2 separate regions of the Homo sapiens genome follow, and region 1 is reported to be linked to region 2. Evidence: microRNA targets listed by miRTarBase, many of them from high-throughput screens and not tested one by one. Region 2 holds a microRNA gene; the other region holds the end of a gene's coding sequence.
What was found. Region 2 holds the annotated microRNA hsa-miR-3152-3p (UGUGUUAGAAUAGGGGCAAUAA, at 2,142-2,163, opposite strand). A microRNA usually pairs through its seed, bases 2 to 8, with sites in the 3' UTR of a target mRNA and lowers its output. Matches are read on the target gene's strand: a 7mer-m8 pairs with bases 2 to 8, a 7mer-A1 pairs with bases 2 to 7 and ends in A, and an 8mer does both.

Region 1: the mRNA of CCDC69 is a reported target of hsa-miR-3152-3p. Seed matches in the 3' UTR shown: 8mer at 1,951-1,958.

The regions. Positions count from the first base shown.
Region 1 is chr5:151,179,469-151,183,863 of GRCh38, forward strand. CCDC69 (coiled-coil domain containing 69) reads right to left here. Exons shown (of 9, transcript NM_015621.3): 9 at 1,584-4,146. The coding sequence ends at 3,969. It also overlaps the pseudogene PDGFRL2P. Among named protein-coding and RNA genes, the nearest start is that of ANXA6, 24 kb to the left of the region's middle.
Region 2 is chr9:18,571,118-18,575,512 of GRCh38, reverse strand. It overlaps MIR3152 (microRNA 3152), which reads right to left and starts at 2,207; the gene lies at 2,134-2,207. It overlaps ADAMTSL1 (ADAMTS like 1), which reads right to left. Exons shown (of 29, transcript NM_001040272.6): 4 at 1,247-1,483.

The DNA of each region.
Region 1 (4,395 bases), not on the chromosome of region 2:
CCATTTAAGAACAGTATAGGACAGGGAAACAAGGTGCTCTACAAGCTGTGATTTGACAAGATCACCACTTTCAGTAGCCCTGAAAAGGAGGCCAGTGGCACCCAGTGAGGGTGCCCTGTGGAACCCAGTGAGGGTGCCCTGTTCCCCCCGAACTTAAAACACTCTGGCTCCACCTCGCTCCAGTCATTTGTGTAGCCTGAGCTGGCACATAGCGACTTCCCGAGTTCATCTCTCCATTCCCTGCAGTGGCTGCAAGGATGTGATAAAGGTGAACTCCACAGAGGCCTTAGGCATTGGAAAGGGTAAAGGATCATTCTCCCACTTGTCAGAAGAGGAAACTGAGACCCAAGAAGGGGAAAGGAGCATACAGACGGTCAGGAGACACTGGCTTGGCTTTACCAGGATTTCCCCAACATGTTCTTTAGAAGGGTGGAATACCAGAAAGTTCCCTCCCACCCTACCTCACTTCCTCTTATAACCATTACCTGTCTTGGAGATTCAAAATACACAGGTACATGTAACAGACTCAGTGGTCGGAGTCTACCCAATTTCACTTTGCTTTTCTTAATGTTTCCAAAACACTTTTGGTAGTAAAATTCTTCCTCTTCCTCTCCTTTGAGGAGGTAGCATCCCTACAGAAGCAGAGGGCCACAAAACCCACGTTGGGAAGTACTTCCCTGGACTGAGTTACCTCTGGACACTCTTTGAGAAGGGGAGGGAAACCCAGCTTTTCTCTGCAGACTTGAGAAGCTTAACGTTTTTCACAAAGAACCTGGCCTTTAAGGTGCTCTGACACCAAGCTGAAGTGTGACCTTGGGCAAGTCACTTCTCCTTTCCCCAAAGAGATAAATGGTGCCTCTTACCTGACCCTGGTGTGTGAGTCAGAGATGCACCTGGGGCAGCTGATGGACAGTCCGTTTTTATCCCCTACCGTTGGGCCAACCACTCTACATCAGTGAACAGGCCCATGTGGTACACGGGGAGAGCCAGGTACAGCAGGAGGCAGAGGGCACCCTGTATGTGGAGGGGACCTGGGCTAGGGATGCTGGTGTCTACACCTGCTGGGCCACCAACCTTCAGGGCACTGGTTTGGCCACCACCCATGTCCACGTGACTCGAGGTCCTCGTGTCTCCTCTACCCCTTCCTAGCTCCCTCCCTGGCCACAGGCATCTGGATGTGGAGCAATAGGCAGAATCAGGGGTAGGTACCTGTGGGAACATCAGTGTTTCTGATGCCAAAGAGGGGTCCTGCAGTGCAGAAGGTGACTTCTCATTCATCCTCGCAGTCTCTCCCACCCCATCCCTCTGTTTTCACCACTTACTTCAACCTCAGCCTCACTCCAAGCCTTGGTCTATTTTGAAGGCCATCCTTTAATCCAGGCTTCACCCTAGCCCCAGGCCCCACATCCACAATTAGGGCAAAGCAAGGGCCAGTGGGGCTTTGGTGCTTGAGGAGAGTGCCCAGAACCACGAGTGGGCTACCCAGGCCCCAGATTTACTCTTCAGAGATCCCCACCATTGGCAGAAGTCCTTGTGAAGACCCACCTCCCCACCCTCCCAGAAAAACACAAAAGTCACATAAATAAGGTGCCGCATGTTCTTTTTAGTTTCCATACATCGTCTGTCCCAGAGTGAGGAGAAGTTGATCTCCTTCCCACATCCACCACAGGCTGCGTGAGGGAAGCCTGGCTCCCCACAACTTGCTCCTTCTCCAGCCCTGCCCCTCTCAATTAAAACAATGCTTTCTTTTTTCTTTTCTTTTTTTTGAGACGGAGTCTTGCTCTGTCACCCGGGCTGGAGTGCAGTGGCGCGATCTTGGCTCACTGCAAGCTCCGCCTCCTGGGTTCACACCATTCTCCAGCCTCAGCCTCCCAAGCTGCTGGGACTACAGGCGCCCACCACCACGCCAAGCTAATTTTTTGTATTTTTTTAGTAGAGACAGGGTTTCACTGTGTTAGCCAGGATGGTCTCAATCTCCCAACCTTGTGATCCACCCACCTCGGCCTCCCAAAGTGCTGGGATTACAGGCGTGAGCCACTGTGCCTGGACTAAAACAATGCTTTCTAAAGCGCATTCTGCAGCCTGATGTGCCTGTGAGGTGAGAGGTGTGGGAGGGACAGAAGCTTTGTTCAAAGAGGTTTGGGAGAGGCTGGATACTTAGCTCCCTTCTTGTAAGTTTGCCACACACATTGGCATATTAAAGGTTCTGAGAAGTCATTCAGGTCACTGATCTGTTTAGGTGTCCCCAAATAACTTGGCCACCAATCATGTCTACTCCTGGACATTAGTTCAATAAACTAGTGTATCGCAGATGTGCTTTGCAAAAAGCTTCATGAAAAAGTACACATGTGATTCCCTCCAGGGCTTTCCTCGAGGCTCCTGGGTGACCTGTCTGACCATGGCTGGAGAATCAGCACAGCACTCCCCTAGCCTCACCTCTTCCCCCATTTGGCTGTGGAAATGGAGAAACACAGTCACCTCTGAACTTCTAAACCTAGAAACAGAAGGAGACTGTACACAGGGGAATACAGAAGGCAGTCTGGGATGATGTCACTATAGAATGACTGATGAAAAATGCAGATTGACTGTTCTGACGCTGGCTTAGGGCCTGGGGCTGAAGCTGGGGACCTTGAGCAAGGCCCTTTGACTCCTGTGATCTGTTTGCCATGTTGCCAATGAGGAATAGGAACCTGCTTCAAGGATCTTATGAGGACCAGGGGAGGGAGGGGTATGGAAAGCCTTTGATGCAAATGCTCTATGCAGAACAGGAGTTATAATTATAGTCTCCATTAGACATGAAGCTTCCTGAGAAGGATCCGAAATCCACAGACTATCAGGACTGGACGGCCTGCTGAGGTTAGTTACTCTAGCCACCCCTTTTCACTGATGGGGAAGCTGAGCACCAGGTTGTAAAAGCCTGGGCCTGGGATCAGGGGCAGTGGGAGGAGGAGTTAAGGCAGGGAGCAGGAATGAAAAAGAAACTAAGTGGGTGAGGGCCAGGGAGAGGAAGATTAAGTCACAGATCTGATTTTCCAGAGCCTGAAGAGAAAAACAGAGCAAAGGATAAGACCCGGATGACAGATGAGATCTAGATTCGACTCTGGGAACTGCTCCATGCCTTGGTTTCCTCATCTGTGCAGGGATGAGGTTCCAGCTCTGATAGATGAATGGACTCACAACCACCAAGCTTGCCCCTGTGCCCAGGTGGCACCAAGACTGAAGGGCCAGGAGGGCTGAGGGGATGCACCTTGCCTGGTAAAGGAAGAGGAGCTCTGGCTACTGTCCCTTGGTGGACACGACTCTGGCCCAGGAATGATGCCTCAGCTGGGGAGGCTGCCTGGCCCTGTCAGCCCCAAGGGCCTTCAGAGACCCCCTCTCTACCACTCACCTTCCCCACTCTGATTTGCGGGGTTTGTCCACACTCCCCCCAACCCCTACTCTGGCCTTCAGACAATCCTAGAATGGGACACTGCAGTGACATAAGAGTCCTTTGACCAGTCCCCCCACCATTTTAATGCAGGGGTAAACTGAGGCTCTGAGCAGGCCAGGGTGGAGTGGAAACACCTAGAGGAAGTTGATAAGTCAGCAAGTCGGCAGCAGAGCTGACAAGCTGGGACCAGGGGCTGTCTCCTTTATGTCAAATGGCCAGCGTGACACAGACTGCCCCTGGGAAAGCCTCGGAACTTCTCGGATTGGGACAGAGTGCTGGGGCAGGGAGGAAATGTCTCCTCTTGCTTATTCCCTTGGCCAACTCAAGGGAAGACGCTTCTCGGGGCCTCCAAAACCCTGTGGGTGATTCCATGTAACTCAAGGCCCCAGGGCTCACTGGGCACACACCCAGGATCTCCATCTCGCTCCCACCCTCGTTCCTTCCTGGAAAAGAACTGAGAGGCTCCTGCTGTCTTCTCCAGAAAAACCTTGGAAGGAGCTGTGACTTCAGGCGTCGTGGTGGGCCCAGGCCCTGCACCCTATGTGGCGAGGAAAGAGACCTCAGTGGGAGTGACAGGGGCCAGAGGGAAGGCAGGCGAGGCATTGGCCCCAAGGACCCGGTACAACAGCTCCTCCTTCTCCTGCTGGAGCTGTCGCCGCAGCTGCACCTCCTTCTCCAGGGCCTCACGCGTGAGAAGCAGGTCTTCTGACAGCTGCCTGTGGATGCACACAGAGCCCAGGGTTGCCTACTGGGAGCAGCTGCCACAGAGACCAACCCATTCCCCCAGGAAGCCTTCCTTAGATGGACCAGCAGCCTGCTGCAGGGTCCCCACTGCCCTCCTTGTTGGCCTGTATACAAGAGGCAATTCAATCTGTTGACCAAGGAGCGGGGGCCTCACAGACAGGCAGGCAGTTCTGAGCTGCTTCAAATCTCTGCTCTACCACTTAGCTATATAATCTTGAATA
Region 2 (4,395 bases):
CAGAAATGATTTATTCAGATATATTGCTTTTTAGAATGTTGATTGAATAACTCTAAGGCCCTTTCTAGCTTTAAAATAGTAAAATTCCACATTCAAATTTACACCTGAAATTCATATATCTCTTGTATATAAGGAAACCTTAAGATATGTTTCATCAGTGACAAACTCCTATATGACATCAGTTTCTCTGCCTCATGATTTTAAACTTTAGGAAGGTTGACTATGTTTGTTTCCCTCTTGCATGCATAAAACCTTGCCTGACATCTCACATCTCTTATAGTCATTTACACTACAGTTTTTGCCTTTACATCCAAATATAGATGTAAGTTTTAAAAAAATAAATTTGAAACAACAAATTACTAAAACATATATTTCTCTTACATTCCTAGCCGTGATATTATACATTCTGAAGAGAGAAAATTTCAGCTGACACCATGTTGGAAAAGGCAAATACTCTCAAAATTTTGTGTCTGCTTCATGAAATATAAAAGCATATAGTCAAATACAGCACACAGAAAAACAATAGCAACTGCTTGCTCCAAAAACTAGACTGGTAATCCTAATCCAAAAAGTGGACCTGAAAATAAAGATGGCAAAGACATGACAAACATACAAACCCTTTTTCACCTTACTAATTCCCTACCTAGAGTAGACATTGATGAATGGATGGATACCAGAAATCAAACCTTTTTGTAATCCTGTTTTAAAGATTTAACTGGCTTAAGTCCAACCTAGCTGGCTCTTCCATGACTTTCTCTACAGTGTGTCTGAATTTTCAATACAATGGAAATTATAGTAAAGTAGCAAGTTTTCCTACAGTTTACTTGGGGATTTTAGAATTGGTCTTACCTGATTTATTCTGAAACTGAGTCAATGAAAATCCAGTCTCTAAATACACACACACACACACACACACAAACACAAACACACACTTCAGGAATAGCCAATCCAGGGGATAATTTCAAAGTCTAGTACATAATTGATAAACACTATTCAAAAATTTTTATTCTTTTATATTCAAGTGACACTCAAGGAAAGAAAAATAACTCTAGTCTACTTTTCCTTCGCACAATACAACACTTGGTACTTTTCACTGAAATCATACCTTAATTTTCAAATCTTTCACCATTTACAAACTCTAAAAAGTGTAAAGATGAGTGATTCAGAGAGTGAGACTATGTAAACCATTTACACAAAGACATTGAAACCCTCTGGACAAGTTGAATGAGAACAAATCAGCACTTACTTGGCATAAACCACTGATGCACATATCCAAAGATTCTGTATAGCAACGCGTACCATCTAAGACCTTAGGTGCTAGTTCAACAACCAGGGTTGTTCCTTTGGCTTGGCACTTGAGTGAACATGGGTTGTCAGGGTCATTAGACACAGGAAGCCATTCATAAAACTGGCCATGGTGCTTGACATCATTATGAGCTGAGCATTGCTGAGCTCGGAAATCACCTGCTTCTGGTGGGCAGTCCTGGAGAAAAAAGAGAGAAAGGACATACAAAGGTTAGGAGGATACCCCCAAACATGAAACCAGAGCAGCTATATGGTCTGCTTAGGTCTTAGAAAGCAAAACAAATGTCCTGGTCATGATAGATGGAACTTATAATATCATCTTAGAGGTTATATGATTATTTGGCTTGCAAAATGTAGAAATCTGATAAAGCAATCACCTCAAAATACATTTTCTGATTGAGTTTAAATGGAAAAATAATTGGCTTGAAATAGATATTCTGATTAGGTGGGACATACATTTTTTGAAAGTTGTCTATTGGTTCATGAATTCTTCCACACTGTACTATCATTTTGACTTCCTCATAAGTAGAACCTAGTAAAGTCAGAGGATTAGTTGAAATTATTTGTCTCTTTCAGTTCTGATATTGAGAGCTATGACAATTGTTTATTTGAATAACTAGCAGTAAAAAGTTATAAAAATTTCATTCAAAAAGTTTTTGTGGAGTTGTAATTTTTTGTCTAGGACTTAGGTTGCATAGTATCTAGAATTAAACATGGGGAACAAAAAATATGAAACCATTTATATATGAATTGCTTTGGCTTAAGGCAGCATGGCAGAATGGAAAGAGCATGGACTTCCTCCTTAGATGGGTGGGTGGCTGCAATGCAGTGCAGAGTTATTGCCCCTATTCTAACACAGGGAAGCCTAGTCTTGTGTTAGAACAGAGGCAATAACTCTGCACAGCTCTCAAGGTTGTTGTGAGAAGTTCACGAACTCATGCTGGCCAAATATATGCACAAGGAATATACTGAGTAGATGGTAGCTATTACTATGATTATTTAATGAGGCCACAGAAGGCAAAGGGATGGAGTATGAGGAGATTCTCTCAATTTGAATTGTAAATTATATTGTTAGAGATCAGTGGAAAATAAGAATCTTTTTGATGTAAGTTTCATAAAGGGCAATTTAAAATGTAAAACTATGGCTAACAATGGCCATTATCTAATGAATAATAAATCTCAGTAAAAGCAGGTAAGATTTAATTTTAAAAAGGCAAATATTGCCTATCCCTTGGAAGGGCTTTTTGATAGGTTTATCTTATTCTACAAGCCTTCAGATTAAAATTTACCATGGAAGACTGTCGTCGACTCTCCAGCTGTAGAAAGGCTTTTATTCTAATTTTTTGTTTTAAATAAAGGATTTCCATGTAGCCTTCAGCAGTTCCCTGTTACTACATTATCATTGTGAGAGTTCTCTTATATAAGGTTTCTTTCTCTGAAAAATCTCTTTACCTTTAAATAAGCATTCTAAAACAGCACTGAAAATTTTGACTCTTTTCCAAAACATTAGTGATACTACTAAAGAGCATATAACGCTCTGGTAGTTGAGGGAGCACAAATTCTTTCTAGGCAATGTGGGGTAGAAACAAATATTTATTTAGGATGAACATGAAATTGTTCAAAATACAATATAAAATGTCAAAGACATTTTACTGTTAGTATTATGTGTTCTCAGAGTGAATAAACCATAGTAGCAGAGGAAAAGAATAATGTATATAACATAGGTACAGATACACAGGCACCCAGCAAGGCTTAACATTTTGAATATTGTCTGAAAAGAGTATGAATAAAATTTACCAATTATTAATTTTTTAGATAATAGGATGCAGTTTAAATTTTTTAAGATCCATAAATAAATAAATATGTGTGCTATACAGGCTGTTTACACGTTTATTTTGTAAAATAAAACAAAAACTACCTACAACCAGCAAAACTATATTATGAATTACAACACAGGTAAATTGTGTCAAATCATGACATACAATACAAATTAACTTTATTTTTTTTTTTTTTGACAAGGAGTCTCGCTCTGTCTCCCCGGGTGGAGTGTAGTGGCGTGATCTCGGCTCACTGCAACCTCCGCCTCCTGGGTTCAAGCAGTTCTCCTACCTCAGCCTTCTGAGCAGTTGGGATTACAGGCATGTGCCCCCACACCCAGCTCATTTTTTTATATTTTTAGTAGAGACAGGGTTTTGCCATGTTGGCCAGGCTGGTCTCGAACTCCTGACCTCAGGTGATCCACCTGCCTTGGCCTCTCAAAGTGCTGGGATTATAGGCATGAGCCACCGCAACTGGCCACAAACAACTTTAAATGTTTAACACAAGCTCCTTTCAGACCATATGTTCTAGAGCACAGAGAAACTGATTTAATATTGTCTTAATGAACTCACATTCCAAAGATAAGACTTCCACTTGCCTAATTTACAAATTCTACCAATATCTGCCTAGGCCTCACTTACTAACTTCTGCCCTAAAACAACTCTATAACTAACAACTGCCCCCAAACTCTACACGTAGCCTTCCTTAAATTTCCCCACTTGAGATACGATAGAGTCTCTGTCAAGGTGCTGCTCTCTCCTGCTTAGCATGTTTAATAAACCTACCTTTATATGATCCACAAGTTCCTGGTCATTGAATGGGAGCGTCTAAAGTTGAACTGACAGTTTAGCAATGTTTAAATACAGTATTTTCGTTTGATAGTACCTATCATCCCAGGAGTCACTTGATTACTCAGTACAAGTACAGAAGAAGTAGAGTACATTGTACTGGGGGTACAGTACTTCATTATACTGAAATACAATAAAGCAGAACATTGAGGAAATTGTTTGAAATGGTTCCAAACTCCTCTTAAAATTTCCTTTGCCTCCTTTTTCTATACAAGTGAAACAGTTAGAAGGGTCAGGCTGAATCGCCTCTGCCTTAATGAGCAGAAGATATAATTAAGAGACCTCTTAATATGAACCAGGGAAAATTTTCTGCACGTTTCCAATTCTGATAAAAGTGTCAATTATGTTTTTAAATTGATAATGCAATATCATCTTAGTACAGACATAAAACCTCTACAGAGTCTCCTATGATTCCCCTCTGTTC